2 separate regions of the Homo sapiens genome follow, and region 2 is linked to region 1. A link means that fine-mapping ties the variant in region 1 to the expression of a gene that starts in the linked region. Tissue or cell type: whole blood. Region 1 holds a variant in brackets; the other region holds the start of a gene. All regions are shown on one strand. Distances are from middle to middle.

Evidence for each region. PIP is the estimated chance that this variant, and not a neighbour inherited with it, causes the effect.
Region 2: TBX19 starts here. The variant in region 1 is fine-mapped to the expression of TBX19 in whole blood (TOPMed, PIP 0.91).

What each region holds. Positions count from the first base shown.
Region 1 is chr1:168,093,619-168,096,302 of GRCh38, forward strand. The region is part of intron 3 of GPR161 (G protein-coupled receptor 161); the gene reads right to left. Among named protein-coding and RNA genes, the nearest start is that of GPR161, 42 kb to the right of the region's middle. The variant C/T (reference allele first, on the strand shown) is at 1,341.
Region 2 is chr1:168,279,653-168,282,336 of GRCh38, forward strand. It overlaps TBX19 (T-box transcription factor 19), which reads left to right and starts at 1,225. Exons shown (of 8, transcript NM_005149.3): 1 at 1,225-1,641. The coding sequence starts at 1,439.

The sequences.
Region 1 (2,684 bases):
CTGAGACAGATCAGATCATCCTTCATACCTCTAGTTAACACTAAGGTGAGCCAGTGGCAGGGGAAGTGATTAGGGTTTCAGAATCTGCTGCAGATCAAGGCCTTGCCCACAGAGGGTCTGGTCAGCCCTGGCTCAGACAGAGGGACCAGGGACACAAGGCAGAGGCCAGGGCTCTCTCCTGCAGTCAGAAAGCCATGGACAGCGCAGGGTGAGCGGCTGGGCTGGGGCGCCACATTCTGCTTTGGTTCCCAGACTCTTACTGATGCTGCTGCCTCCTCCTGGGATCAGGACCTTCAGGGAAGAACAAGAAGAACCATCCCCCACCCCCACCCCAGCTCCCATTCCTCGGAAAGACCAATAACTTGGAACCCATTCCATAAGCTCTTCAGCCCAAAGGCATCCCACAAGCCTGCTTTCCCTAAATGAAGATGAGACCACCAGCTGCCTGGGATGTGCCAAACCAACCACAGCTGGTGTTTTCCGCCTGTGCTCACAGCTTCACCAGCTCTTCTAGGACACCTGCAAGTGACTTGCATGGAAAATCTTGGCCTCAAAAGCAGGTGTTTCTTTTTGTTCTACGAACCCTTTCCTGCTCCATTTTCTGTCCTCATTTTTTTTCCTTCTTCATTTTAACTTCATTGATCTAGAAAACATCTATTTTTTTTTGCCTAGAAGACAAGTGAGTTTACAAAATCTGGACTAATACATTAATCAGTGAAATGAAGCCCAACATTGAATGGACTCCTGGATCACAGGTCATATGTGAAAATGTGGGCTTGCAACTGGCAGGGGTGAGCATTTCAGTGGTTAAAATACTGAGATACAGAGAAATGTTTTCTCCTATGGTTAAAAGTCCCAGACTTCCTTCCTCTCTTGGAAATAAAACTCCATCAGCCCGTGAAATAAATCAGTGATGCCATTGTGTCTCATCGCCACATGGAAAGGATCTCCTGTCATCATTGCCACTGGGTGTGCATAATTAGAGTCATTTCTTTCACCCTCTTGAGAAGAAAAGTGGAAGAAAGACCTATTTCATGAAGATGAGAAATTAACTAGAGTGGTTTGAAGAGTTGCCCGAAGTCATCTGGCAAGAGATTAGGACTGTAGTCCAAGCTGAATGTTCTCCAAATCTCTCCCAGTGGCTTGGCCAGGTGATGGTCTCCTTTCACCTTGGCCCTAAAAATCCAGCTACTTGACCTCAAAACTACACAGTAAAAATGCTAGAGGCAAGATCCACAAATGTGTCCTGAGTCAGTGGGAAAGGGCCAAAGAGGAAACAGGGTATTTGCATCATCTCAAAGTATCTCCTCAGTTGTATTTATTAATTACAATGGGAAAAT[C/T]AGCAGCTTTACTGTGGAGAAAGCTGACAGGCACCACCTTAACCGAGAGATCAAGAGCAACACAACTAGCAATAAGGCATATTGGCATATGTGCCCCCTGCTATGATGTACAGGAAGGGCACATCGCCCCTGTGGCATTTTTGCCAAAAATGGATAACCTCATTCTAATCTTGAGAAAGCATCAGATGAACACAAATTAAGGGGCAGTCTACAAAATACCTGGTAAGTACTCTACAAAGCTGTCAATGTCATAAAAGACAAGGGAAGAGTAAAGGATTGTCAAAGATTGACTAAGACAATATGGGATCCTGAGCTGGATCTTTGGACAAACAAAGGACATTAATGAAAAACGGGTGAGATCTGAATCAAGTTGTAGTTAATGGCACTGCCCCAGTGTTAACGTTTTAGAGCTGTGGTTGTTCAAGACAGTAACCCTAGAGGAAGCTGGGTGTGTGGGAATTCTCTGTATTGTTTTTCCAAGTCTTCTGTAAATCTAAAATTATTTCAAAATAAAAAGTTTTAACAAAAAATCTAACCCCTAACTAGAGTAATTCCACTGGGTCCCATCAAAGGTGGTGGGATTGTGTCCGGAAACCTGTGCACACCGGATCAGTCATCAGAGGAAGGAGCAGCCTCACACGTACAAGGCCATGATGCTTCGATGGAAGGCTGAGGTTTGGCATGGACACCCCCGGATTGTCTGGGACCATCTGAGGAGATCACTGATCTGTGAGGAGGAGGAGGATGGTTGAGGAGGAAGACAGCAGCTGAGGTGGGGAGGGGGTGCTGACAAGAGGAAACACTGAAGGAAAGGATGTGGATGTGGCTGTGCCAGGAGAAGGTGGCCTGGTCCAATGCTTGGATTCTTTTTCCTCTAGTAAAGAATATACTCCAGGCCTGGCATGGTGGCTCACGCTTGTAATCCCAGCACTTTGGGTGGCTGAGGTGGGCGGATCACTTGAGGTCAGGAGTTTGAGACCAGCCTAGCCAATATGGTGAAACCCGTCTCTACTAAAAATATAAAAAGTAGTTGGGTGTGGTGGTGCGTGCCTATAATCCCAGCTACTTGGGAGGCTGAGGCACGAGGATCACTTGAATCAGGGAGGCAGAGGCTGCAGTGAATGGAGATTGTGCCACTGCACTCCAAGCTGGACAACAGAGCAAGACCCTGTCTCAAAAAAAAAAAAAAAAAAAAAAAAAAAGAGAGAGAGAACTAACTATACACACTCTGAGGCCAGAGGGCCAGGGCTGGGGTTTCAGAAAGCAGATTTCTGGACCGTGGTGTCCCCTGTCCCATTCTTTTGGGACACATACCAGGGCACCAGGGAGCTCTGCTGGCCTTGT
Region 2 (2,684 bases), 190 kb after region 1:
GTTTACTTTATATCATTTATTTTCTCCATCATATTGTTAATTCTGTAAAGGCGCAGGCCATTTCTGTTTGTTCCTTGCTGTATGTGATGCTTCATAGGTATGTAGCATAGGAGATCCTGAATACATTTTCTGTCATCCTTACCCTGACTTTATCTTACCTTTTTGGGTTTGTTTTCCTTATGTTCTTGTTTTCTTACTTTGTATTGAAATGAGAGAAAAACTCACAACCCCCAGGCTCTACTCAAGGTTGGGGGCCAGAGGAGGTAGAGCTTCCTCTGCTCCTGTCTCTTCCACCCGCCATCCACTCACTCGCCATTAGTACTGTGTGTTGTGGGCAAAAGAAAAGCTTTCTACTAGTGTTTCTTCCCAGGGAATGTGGGATTCATCCTGGAATGCCAAAATAAGGATGAATTGTCTAAAGAGAAAACCAGAATGCCTTTCTGGACCAAAGATTGAAATTGCTCTGCCTAATAATGTAAACAGTTTATTTTCACTGACTGGGGGCAGAGTGTTCCTTAGCGAGATTAATATGATACTAGCTGCTTTTTTGTCTTCCTCTGGCAAAGGCTAGAGATAACAAAAATTGGGGTTCTAGACTCTAGGGAGGAAGGACAACATTCACAGCTCCATTTGTAGGAGGTGAGGAGGGCCCTTGAGAAAAGTGGGGTGTGAGCGAGTATAGGACATTCAGGAGAGAGATGATCAGTAGGGGACACCCTGGGAGAAAGAGATTCTGAGCTCTTTTCTTTTCTCCGGAGCCCTGACCCTTGAGCAGTGGCACACAGAGTGTCTTCCTTTATTCTCTGGTACAGTAGTCATGTTTCTTGGCACAGTGCCTTGGACCTTCCATACATGCTTTCTTCCCTCCAGAGCCTTCGTCTAAGATGCTGGAGAGTAGCTTATAGCCTGGGCATCAAGTTTGTCGATTCTCCCCAGGACCCTTTTCTTTATAGGTGCCACATGTCATGATTTATGCACAAACATGATTTGCCTGACAGTGCAGTCTGGGCCTGGAATAATTTTAATTAATGGGAAAATGGTCCTCAATACACCGATTAGACCTCTTCAGGTACAACAAGATAAAAGCCTGATAATTTGGATGGAGTACTCTTCTTAAATATCTACTCTGTGCACGGCAGCCAATGGGAAAGCCAGGCTCTCTCCCACCTGATCCAATGAGTAATTAAGAGAGGGCTTTTTCTTCCCTACCTCTCCCCTGCCTCCACCCCGCTCCCCAACTAAAGCTTAACAGGTTGGTGGCATAATGTGGAGACTTTTAAGGGGTGTCATCCTAGGAGCTTAGGCAAGAGCCAGGGTATCTTCTCTCCGCTCCCCAAGCACTGTTCAAGTGGGTTTGAAAAGCAGGCAAGTGAGGGAAGGAAGAAGCTAGAAGCAGGCAAGTTGGGTAACGGCTCTCGGCAAAGTTCGAGAAGTGCCTATGGCCATGAGTGAGCTGGGCACTCGGAAGCCCAGCGATGGCACTGTTTCTCATCTGCTCAATGTGGTGGAGAGTGAGCTTCAGGCAGGGAGGGAAAAAGGCGACCCTACGGAGAAGCAACTTCAGATCATCCTGGAGGATGCACCTCTCTGGCAGAGATTCAAGGAAGTCACTAATGAGATGATTGTGACCAAGAATGGCAGGTGAGTTTATCTGCCGCCCCGCGTGGGCTGGCAGGGCTTGGCAGGAGAGATGAGACCCCTTGAATATTGAAGAGGCTGCCGCTCTTCACTCAGAGGCGGCGGGATCTGATTAAACATGCTTACAGGAACGACTGTCTCCAATGGCTTTCCTCCAGCCAACTTAATTAATTTATCTGAGATCATCAGAGGATGAAGCCACCTGTCTTATGTGCATTTTAAATGGAGAAATTCTGGGGAAATTACCATAAAGTGGGGGGCATGCCCCATTGGGATGGGAAAATGGACTTAAATGTCAGAAAATAATATTAATTTGTGACTAGCTGCATACCCTATCGCAGACCTGAGCCCCAACTCCGTCCAGATAAGGTGAAAGACAACTTTATTTGGAAGCTGGATGATCTCCTCCTAAGTATAGCAAACTTGCCAGAAATGTTTGGCTAGTTGAAGATTGGAAGCAAAAGGGCAAATGTAAACTCATTGCCTATCACTTCATCTGCTTCCCCGTGTGTGTTTGTGGTGAGTGTTCATTTGAGATTGTGTGTGTTTGTGATGATATGAAAGCTGTTGCAGTAATAGTGGATGAAAACATATTATTCTGCTTTAGAGAAAAGAAGATGCCTTCTTTCTTATCAGTGCAACAAATTTAGGGATTAACTGAAACTGATCTCTGGTGGCATTTCTCAGATTCTATTAAACCTAGTCTGCTAAGGGGCTGTCCAGGTAATATTAGAAGATTTCACTTCGTAGAGGAGACGCAAATATTTTGAAACAAAATCTCACCGCTCGCAGCTTGGCCAAACTGGCTCCAACATTCAGCTGGTGTTCACATAGCTTTTCATACACATGGTCACAAAAGTACAAAATGCTGAAAGGCATTTTCAGTAGGCTTAGTTTTGGCTGAACTCTAATTATGACACCCTCGAGAGAATTCTGATAAAAGAGAAGAGCCGAGGCCATCTGAACTTCTTTCTGTCAGGCTTTTGTCCTTGTGCAAAGTGCTTCCGTTCCTGATGTCTCGGTTTTCTATATTTTAATAAAGCACA